Regions from separate parts of the Homo sapiens genome. Here region 1 is linked to region 2. The links come from fine-mapping of genetic effects on gene expression. A gene starts in region 2. The other region holds a variant in brackets. All regions are shown on one strand. Distances are from middle to middle. Region 1 holds the start of LINC00654 (long intergenic non-protein coding RNA 654). Region 2 holds the start of LINC00658 (long intergenic non-protein coding RNA 658).

What was found. PIP is the estimated chance that this variant, and not a neighbour inherited with it, causes the effect.
Region 1: its variant is the best candidate, but not a certain one, in a credible set for the expression of LINC00658 in caudate (GTEx, PIP 0.64).

The regions. Positions count from the first base shown.
Region 1 is chr20:5,500,804-5,506,179 of GRCh38, reverse strand. LINC00654 (long intergenic non-protein coding RNA 654) reads left to right here and starts at 1,584. Exons shown (of 2, transcript NR_015406.2): 1 at 1,584-1,882; 2 at 4,317-5,376. LOC124904863 (a long non-coding RNA gene) reads right to left here. Exons shown (of 3, transcript XR_007067509.1): 3 at 3,578-3,633. RefSeq lists an enhancer at 1,729-1,838. The variant C/A (reference allele first, on the strand shown) is at 2,106.
Region 2 is chr20:5,443,479-5,448,854 of GRCh38, reverse strand. LINC00658 (long intergenic non-protein coding RNA 658) reads left to right here and starts at 3,107. Exons shown (of 5, transcript NR_038240.1): 1 at 3,107-3,351.

The DNA.
Region 1 (5,376 bases), 57 kb before region 2:
CAACACCATTAGTCATTAGGGAAAGGCAAATCAAACGCACAATGAGATGCCACCTTCTACCCCTTAGGATGGCTATGATAAAATCTACAGACAAGAACAAGTGTTAGCAAGGATGGAGGAAAAAACCCTCATCACTGCTGGTGGGAATGTGAAATGGTGCAGCCACTTTAGAAAACAGATTGGCGGCCAGGTGCTGTGTCTCATGCCTGTAATCCCAGCAATTGGGAGGCCAAGATGGGTGGATTGCCTGAGGTCAGGAGTTCGAGAGCAGCCTGGGCAACATGATGAAACCCTGTCTCTACAAACAAACAAACAAACAAACAAAGAAACAAACAAAAAAACATTATGCAGGCATGGTGGCATGTTCCTGTAGTCTCAGCTACTTAAGGAGCTGAGACAGGAGGGTCACTTGAGCCCAGGAGGTTGATGCTGCAGTGAGTGGTGTTTGTGCCATTGCACTCCAGCCTGGGTGACAGAGTGAGACCACATCTCTGAAAAAAAAAAAAAAGAAAAAAAAAAAAAAAGAAGAGGGGAAACAGGTTGGCAATTCCTCTCAAAAACTACACAGTTATACTTTGACCCAGAAATTATACTCCTACTTATATAAGCAGAAATGAAAACATAAATCTACACAAACTTCTACACAAATGCTCATAGCAGCTTTATTCATAATAAACAGAAGTGGAAACAGTTCAAAAGTCCATCAGCTGATGACTGGATAAATATCATATATGCATACAAGGGAATATTTTTCAGTAAAAAACTAAGTTCTGGGCCAGGTGAGGCATCTCATGCCTGTAATGCTGATGCTTGCACCCGTGCAAGCATAGGTATTGCACAGGCTGAAGAAGGAGGATGGTTTCACCCCAAGAGTTCAAGACCAGCCTGGACAACATAGCAAGACCCCTTTCTCTACATATATATAGAAAATGTTCTCAAATTAGATGGTGCCGATGATTGCACAATTCTGTGACTATACTAAGAACCAGTGTATATTCTATTTTATTTCATTTTATTTTAGAGACAGGGTCTCACTCTGTCACCCAGGCTGGAGTGAAGTGGTGCGATTTCAGGTCACAGCAACTTCTATCTCCCAGGTTCAAGCGATTCTCCTGCCTCAGCCTCCCGAGTACCTGGGATTACAAGCACACACAACTATGCCTGGATATTTTTTGTATCTTTAGTAGAGACAGGGTTTTGCCATGTTGGCAAGGCTGGTCTTGAACTCATGACCTCAGGTGACCCGCCACCCCCATCCCCGCTGCCCCCTCGGCCTCCCAAAGTGCTGGGATTACAGGCGTGAGCCACCGCGCCGGGCCCATTGTACATTTTAAATGGGCGAATTACATCGTGTGTGAATTATAACTTAATAAAGCTGCTGGGAAAAAAAAGAAGATAAAAAAGTGAGGTGGATTAAAGGGCCCATAGAGGAAGCCACCTGACCCCCGGCCTGGCCTCCTTCTCGGCTCTTCCTCTCCGGGGGCCCAACAGGGCTGTGCGTTTGACAGGCAGTTGGGAGACCCTGGTGGCCGGTTTTGGTCGGTCACGTGGGCACGCGGCTGAGCCAATCAGAATCTCCCGGCAGTTGGTTCCCGGAGGCAGAATCTGTTAAACTGACAAAGCCCACGTCTCCGGGTCCCTGTCTCGGGGAGTCGGGACTATTGGGTCACCCCGGGTAGTCGAGACTCTAGACTGAGCTGTCTCGGTCACTCAGGAGGCAGTTGGCAGAGTATTCGTGGTCAGGGAGGTGACCCGTGGTCAGCAGGGTCAGGCCACCCAGGGACAAAGGGTGCTCCTGCACCGGGCCTTGGAGAAGGACAGAGCGGTGGGGACTTGGGGTCAGCGGGGGAGCCTCCGCGGATGGGGAGTCACCACCTGCCGGGTAAGAGGGGACTCATCACAGGGGCCGGAGCAAGACAAGCCCTCCCTCCCGGCTCAGGCCGGGTCCCAGGCTGGACCCCTCCCTGTCTCACAGGGCCGGCCTCCTTCGGAGCTGGCTGGGATGGAAAGGGGAAGTAGGAGGAGCTCAGGACACAGGGATTGGGGCCGATCCTGGGGTCTGAGCTGTGGGGTGAGGAGGGGATCGCCTGTCCCCTGGGGAGTGA[C/A]GATGTCACCCAGCCGTGGCCGTTGCGGAGGTCATGATCTGAACCTTGACAGGTAACCCCAGGGCTGCCTTCCTGTTCTTCTCCTGGGCTGTCAGGGGACACCCTGCTCTGTTTTGTTTTTAAGTGACCAGAGACAGACACGTAACATAGAAAACGCTATCACTTTGATCATTTGTTTCGAATGGAAGAAAAACCGACACAAGTGGGTTTCTGGTGGGAAGCGCTTCCCTCCAACTCCAGGAACTCCATCAAGGAGTTAAGAAAGCACAGAGTCCTGTCAGCAGCCAGAGACATGCTGGGCAGTGGTGACCTCGGAGCCACCCCGCGACATGGAGATCTCGAGCTCCGCCCTCCGTGCAGGGAGATTCCTTTTGGAAAAAATCTCTGGCAGAGTGGGAGGGTGTAGGGGCCAGCCACATACATGCTTGCTGCTAGGACCCCTTAGCCATGGGCAGGGTGGGCACAGTGACCAGGGCCAGGAAACTTACAGGCCCACCAAAGAGTGTCAATTTCAGTCAGAAGAAAAAAAAATTGAACTATGTGATTTTTTTTTTTTTTAAGACGCAGTCTTGCTCTGTCGCCCAGGCTGGAGTGCAGAGGCGTGATCTCGGCTCACTGCAAGCTCCTCCTCCCGGGTTCACGCCATTCTCCTGCCTCAGCCTCCCGGGTAGCTGGGACTACAGGAGCCCGCCACTGCGCCCGGCTAATTTTTTCTGTATTTTTAGTAGAGATGAGGTTTCACCGTGGTCTCGATCTCCTGACCTCGTGATCCACCCGCCTCGGCCTCCCAAAGTGCTGGGATTACAGGTGTGAGCCACCACGCCTGGCCTATGATATTAATATATTTATCATTATACCAGTAACTCATAAAATCAAATTTCAAACTTTTTCTTTCTTTTTTTTTTTTTTTTTTTTGAGACAGAGTCTTGCTGTGTTGCCAGGCTGGAGTGCAGTGGCTCCATCTCGGCTAACTGCAACCTCCTCCTCCCAGGTTCAAGCCATTCTTCTGCCTCAGCCTCCCGAGTAGCTGGGACTACAGCCACCCACCACCACGCCTGGCTACTTCTTTGTATTTTAGTAGAAACAGGGTTTTACCGTGTTGGTCAAGATGGTCTCGATCTCCTGACCTCGTAACCTGCCCGCCTTGGCCTCCCGAAGTGCTGGGATTACAGGTGTGAGCCACCGCACCCAGCAAACTTCAAACTTTTTAATGGAACAAGGACACACAGGCATTAATCCCCAGTGTCCATCAAAGTTGCAATGCAGCCCTAACGCCTGGCATCCTTGAAAGGGATGTGCATTTAGTAATGAGATTTGCTCAGCAGCGTAGTCAGCTGTGTGGTGCATTCTCAGCTGTGCCTCAGCAGCCCTGATGCAGACATCCAGAAGGAGCACAGCCACTTTATCCAGAGGTGAAGTTTTGCAGCAAGACAGCATTCATAGGGGGAGTTCTCAACAAATGTCAGTCCCCAAAAAGGGAACTGGCTTTATTATGGTCATTAGGATATTCACTCGTAGAGAACAGGACCTGACAGACAAAGCAAAGAATGAATACTAAGATTAGAAGTATTTGGCACATTTGGGATGAGAAGGAGGCACAGTGGGAAAGTGTTGAGTTGAAATCAAACTTGGGTTAAATGTGCTCAGTTTTGCCCAGGATCATTCTTGGCCACAGGACTCAGTTTGCTGAGCAGGTACACAACACACAAGGATACAAGCAGCCATTGCACACAGACACACCCACATCAGACACAACCTGCTCTCCTCTCCTCCCTGCACCAAGAGGCACATGTGGCAGGGGTCCTGGTGGAGCACTTCCAGGAGGAATGTCTGGGGACCCTCATGTGAAGGGAACTCCGTGTCAAGGCACCCCCTTTCCTCAGCCACAGTGAGCTCTTGGGAGCTGGGCAATGGTGTGGGAGAGGTTGTGGGGGATAGCAAAGCAGGGGAACCAGCCTGGAATTGTCTCAGAGAAAGACCAGGCCACTAAGAGTGCAGATGGAGACATGAGACATCCAAGGGAGGGAGGAGAGGGGACCCCCTCGTGAAACTGGGGCTCACGTAAACCTGCATCAAGCACTGCGGCAGTGTTCAATCAGAAATGCTGCCCAGTACCCAGGTGGGGCACATACATGCTCAACACGTGAAAAATATCTGTTCTGATTTGTGCTTCAGGAGAAGAGTTAATGTCTCCTTCATCTTTCTCTCTAGCAATCAGCCATGACTGCCTTTGCACTGTCCATGCTCTCAGCCCACCACCTCCTCCCCCTGCCATTGCAGTGGCTAACACTGGAGACGAAGACCAAGACACCACAGCCTTTCTCCAGTACCTCTCAAATCAGCACAGACAAGGACAAAGGCCTCAATCCACAACTGCTGAAGATGGACCCTGGCCACATGGGATGGTCAGACACGCCTGCCCAGCTATCTGCAGGCGAAGAGGCTCAGAAGAGGTTTAGGGGCCTGAAGGACATCTTGCTTCCATGTCCATATGAGCAGGCTATTTCTGCTCCATGAGTCAATTTTGCCATATAAAATACTTAATTTCAGCCATTCCAGGGTGCTATAGGATGCACAGCTTCCCATCAGCCCACCTGAACTCCAGCCATGCCATTTTAATACCAGGAATAAGGTCACCTGCTTTCCTGCCCCTTAGGAGGCCGGAGCCGTGGAAGCAAAATGGCACTTCTGTTTACCTGTTATATTATTTTTTTGTCATCCTTATATGTTTGAAAAATGCAATTATATGAAAAAAGTTTAGTAATTACAGACATAACAGCAGAAAGTCCTCGGAACCAAGCTTATTCTCATGGCCGATTCTGCTCCACCTGGGACTCTGCTGTGCTGCGGGCATCCTGTGGTCAGAATCGCAGAGGGGCCATCAGGGAGGACCTTCCCAGAGGATGGACCTCACGTGACTGCTGCGTGGGCAAGTGGCACTGGCCACTCTGCCTGGAGAGAGGAGTAAATGCAGGGCTGGCCAGGCGACCTGCACACTCTGCTACCGGCCTTGTCCATCTTTAGCCTCTAATTTGAAAATGAGGATCACACAGACCAAGAGTATCTTTGAGGGTTAGTACAGACCACAGAAATGCCCTGGGCCTTTCACTCTCTCCTTTTGCAAATTCCCATGTGTGGAAATGCCGTTTGGATAATGAGGGAGCCTGAAGGAGGTGGACACATGAGCAGCCCCGACAGGCCTGGCTCCATCCTCTGAAAATGGGGCCCCGTGCCCGGCGTGTGGCCTTACTGGTTCAGTCTTCTTTACAGT
Region 2 (5,376 bases):
GCTTGGAGTCGATTATCTCAGGGATGCAGCTCAAAGTAAATGTGTCTTGTATAGAGTGGGCATAGGGATGCTTTAATGAGGAACGAGCAAGTCCCAAGAGGAGCAAGGAAAACTTGAGCTGCAACCACTTTGCATTTCAGATGATGAATTAGAGCGGTTGTTATCGAATCTGCCACCAGAGGGCGATCCAGGTAAAAAAGATCTTCGGGCTACTCTTCAGCCCGGTGACCTGATCTTCCCCCAAACTCAGATCCTTGCTGCCTCCCAGAAACAGCAGACACCTAAGTCCAATGTAGCTTGCCAGGATCTCAGGGAATGAAATTTTATAGTTTGCTGGCATTTTCCTCAGGGGAGCAGAGGCAAGAAAACAATCAAATCCAAGTTTGCGCCACTGCACACCAGCCTGGGCGACAAAGCAAGACTCCCGTCTCAAAAAAAAAAAAAAAAGAAAAGAAAAGAAAAGAAAAGAAAAGAAAGAAAACAATCAAATCCATGGTCTGCTGTTTACTGGATGAAGAATAAGACTGCCTAAAGGCAATGTGTTTAGTACAAAGGTGTCATAAGCTCTGAGATGGTTCCTGCTTTACCAATTTCTGGAAGTGTGACATTAAAGCAACCATTCTCTTTTCTGGGCCTGGTTTTCCTCTGTAAAATGTCAGTTCAAGTTCCAGCCTGTCTTGGGATGTCATCGGCCTTTACAACCTACTTGGGCTATGGCCCTGCGATTAAGTGCACAGTGGAAGCTTAGTCCCCTTGCTTTTCTGCCTCTCTTAGGGAACCACAGTCACAGAAACCAGCACTTGCTGCCATAGGAACTGCTAATATCTTGGACATTCCCTGTATTCTCTCCCAGCCCAAACAGGCATAGCCAGAGGAGTGAGACATGCAGAAAAATGAAAGAAGCCCAGGGCATTGTTCAGCAGTGAGCCTAAAGTCTGTACATGCGATAGCATAATATTTGTGAAAATTCTTGCAAAATGCAAAGCTGATGGCATATGACTTGTAACTCATTCTTGTATATAACAGTAGATCAACATGCAACTGAAGAAAGCACTACTCAGGATGGAAGTAGCCTTGGGAGGGAGGCAAGGAGTAGTGAGGAGGGAGAGAATGAGCTGTTTCTGTAACATTTCATTTCATAAGAGAGATGGATGGACTTCAAGCATCTGTGGCAAAAGGTCACCTCAGATAAATCTGATTGGTTCCAAATTATTTTCTGTAATCCTCCCTATGTTTGACTCATTATTTTAATTAAAAAGAAAAAATATTTAAAGTAATTTTAAAAATAACAGAGCTCACCAGCCCCTTAGAGCGCAGCTTGGTCTAGGGTAGTTTCTTTAACTAGCAGAGCTTTCTGTAGATACAGACATGCGTTCACAAAGTATCTTTAGGTTTCCCAGGCCCGGAGGGGTGAGATAATACTAAGGGAGGGAGATCTGCTCTTGGAGGAGGGACCTGCTCTAACCAGCCCTGTAGCTCTGCAAATCTTTGGGATTTTGTCCTTATCTGTAAATAGGGATGACGTTTGTCCCATTTATCTCATTCAGTTATAATGTGCATCAGATAAGATGATATTTGTAAAAACAACTTGAAAATACAAAATGATGTACACAGGTATTATTTAGTTGTGAAGCTCTAAGTCCTGAGGCCTCGTTTATATTAACAATAGCAATAAAAATAACAATACAGACTGGGCGTGGTGGCTTACACCTGTAATCCCAGCACTTTGGGAGGCCAAAGCGTGCAGATGACGAGGTCAGGAGTTTGAGACCAGCCTGGAGAGTATGGTGAAACTCAGTCTCTACTAAAAATACAAAAATTAGCCGGACATGGTGGCGTGCGCCTGTAGTCCCAGCTACTCGGGATGCTGAGGCAGAAGAATCGCTTGAACTCGGGAGACGGAGGTTGCAGTGAGCTGAGATCTCACCACTGCACTCCAGCCTGGGTGATAGAGTGAGAATCTGTCTCAAAAACAAACAAAAACAAACAAACAAAAAACAATACAATGGCAAGGGAAGAAATAAAAGGAGGGTGTCTAATGTGGTAAGGAGGGAAGGAAAAATGAAGAAAGAAGAAAAACCTATTGAAAATAGCCAAGAAAACAGCTGCCCTTCTAAGATACTGACTTGAGGGCTTTCAAAATAATGGAAATTATGCTTCACAAAAAATAATCCCAATGGTCATGGTCATTAGAATTTAGAACAATATTTATATGGCTCCCTGTGGTGAATCAACAATTATTTTCTATGGCTTCAATTTTCAGAGTTTAAATAATGAACATAGCAATACCACCAAAGAAACATTCATTAAATATCAATATAAAATAAAGTGGAAGAAAAAGAGAAAAACAGCAAGCTGCTGATTGCAGTGTTTGCAACCGAGACTCTGTTCTGCAAACCCTGGGGGATCAGCGTGGATTGAGCTATTACTAGAGGTTGGGGTTAAACACGGTAGGCTATAGACTTTCTGGGGGAGAAACCAGTCAATTTCTATTCTGAAAACCTGGCACTGCCTAAGAAAATCCAAACCCTTCAAACAGAAGCTTCGCAAGAGTGTAGTTAATGGCATAAAAGAGTGCTCAGAAACTCACCCACAGAGACTTTCTGATAGCTGATGCCAGGAACAGCAAAAAGCAGAATGTCCAGTTAGGGATAGTTAACCAAGCCCCTCTCAATTCTTCTTCTTGAGGCTATCCTCTCCTCACTGGTCCCCATTTTATAATCATGCTCAAGGAGCCTAGGCTTCTCTTCTTCTCTTACAGCATGTTTAATATCACTACTTTATCCATTCTGTACTGTTGCAGGCTGAAGGTGACATTACACTTAGAGGGATCCACAGATTCAAGAGGCTGCTTGGGGAGGGCAGCACAGTGAAGTACAAGGACTTTGACATCAGAGAGGCCTGGATTCAAGTCCCAATTTCTGTGTGTGGTAACCAGTCTGCAAGACAGCCTGTGATGGTTCCTGCCTCCTCGTATTCATGTCCTTCTTAGTTCCCTTGCGCATTGAATCAGGGCTGGCTCTGGGTGACCAATAGAATGTGGAGGAAGTGATGGGGTGTGAATTCCGAGGCTAGGTCACAAAAGGCATTGTATCTTCCACCTCTTAGATCTCTCTCTCTGCGGAAGCCAGCCACCGCTCTCCAAGGACTCTCGAGCAGCTCCATCTACAGATTCACATGGAGAAGAATTAAGGGTTCCTGCCAATCACCAGCACCACTTTGCCAGCCTTGTAAGTGGGCCACCTTGGAATTGGAGCCTCCAGTTCCTACTGACATCTGACTGCAACATCATGAGAGACCCTGAGTTTGAACCACCCAGCTGAGCTGCTTCTGAGCTAACCCACTGAAACCGTGAGAAATAATTATTGTTTCAAATCCTAAATTTGGGAGTGATATGTTATATAGCCATATTAACAAGAACTTAACCTAAGTATTGGGGGCATTTAGGGCTGATATTCATTTGGGAGGCACCTGTACAGCTGTATCAATTGTTCAATTATTTAAATATTTCTAAGTTGCTTGGTAAAAAGTCCTGTGCTTGAATTAACCTGATCTTGAATTGCAAGCTCCCTGAGGTGCCTTGCAAAGACAAATCAAATCCTCCTCAGAGGAAGGTAACATTATCCTTGCCCTCAAATTATTTCAACAAGTATTTTACAAATACCATGTTCAGCACACAACCAAAGATAAACTGACATATGGTTAAAAACAGAATGTTTTTAGACACCCAGAAGACATCCTTCACTGAGGGCTTATGTGATAGAAAAATTAAGCATATGATGACAATGGATTCAGTGTATGGCCCGGAGAAAGAAACCAAAAGTTGGGAAAGGTGTAAATGGCCCTAATGGGAAAGGAAAGAGGCTTCCATTGCTTCCCAAGACTGGGACCCATCTCTAAGAATCACAGAGAACAAATCTGTCTCCTTGCTGTTCTCCAGAGGGTAGTTGGACCTCAGATGGGTTAACCAGAGAACCAGGACCCCCAGAGCGCAAACTCCCATTTTTCTGAACATTCCCATGTCCAAGTTTGTCTGGAGAACATCCAAGTTGCCTCTTCAAGGTAGCCGGCGCCATGGACCTTTAAAAGGGACCAAAGTGTTCAGAGGACCAGGAATCCTTACTTGAATGTTCTAGACTGCAAGACACCTAGAGATTCGTAGAAAACATGACTGAGGGAAAGTGCTCCTCTAACCTGAAGGATGGAGACTTAGACCAGCTAGTATCAGATTGAGGGGAAAAAATGAGGTTTTGTTTTTTTTTTCACCAAGTATGTAAAAAAATTAAAACCCACTGTAGAATATTAGCAAGATCTTCAACAAGTCTCTCATTATACAGATGAGGAAATTAAGAACCAGGAGGTTAGAAATTCAGTCCCAGCATGCTGACTCACAGAACATATGTGGACTTTTCTTATACTCCACTGCTCTGATGAATATTGTTAAACACTATTTCTTCCTTACTCTTAGGATATCAGGGCCTTGAATGTCACAGACTACCTGGCACTTGTTTCCCAACAAGCTAATATTGACCCACACAAACTGAAAGCCTCAATTTGACATTATTTGTAGCATCCCCTTGTCCTTTTCTTTCTAAACCCAAATTCCAGTATCCACTGCAACCTTCTAGGTAGGCATCCGCAAAAGGTCTTTCTTCTGATCCTGCCAACTCATCATGGTGCATGGTTTTGAGTAGTGCCATAGAGAATATCTTAATTTCTCTGAGCTTTAGTTAAGAGTGATATACACTGGAAACAAGGAGCTTCCTGCTTCCTCTTTGTAAATTTTGATAAGAGATTCCCCAGTGGTCGGAATTTGCCAGGGACCCCCAGCCCCATTCATGCATGAGCTCTTTATCCCTAAAGATGATGAAGGAGAGCCTCAGTGCCTCTCTGCCAGTCTTGGGAGGCAGGAATGATCCAAATAATTTCAAAGATTTCTCCCAACTCTAAGAACTCTGGCCATATAGGGGGAGGAATGCATTAATTACTAAAAATAATTTAAAAAATGATTTAGTATAATTTCTGGGGTGCCTACTCTGTTTTACCAACTACCCCTTCCACCTCCATCTACCACCATGATTTTCATTATCTTCTCTGCACCTCCATGGCAACCTCTGTCGTGGTCTGGAGAAACTTAGCCTTCAATTCCAACTATCTGTCAAGACCTGAGCAAGTCCACTAACTCTTCTGAAACTCAGGCTCTTCAGTAAATGGGCCTAATGAAGAGGAAAGAGGCTTCCATTGCATCCCAAGACTCAGACCCAGCTCTAGGAATCACTGAGAACAAATTCATCCACATCCACTTGCTGTTCTCCAGAGGTAGCTGGACTTCAGATGGGATAACCAGAGAACTAGAACCTCCAGAGCCCAGAGTCT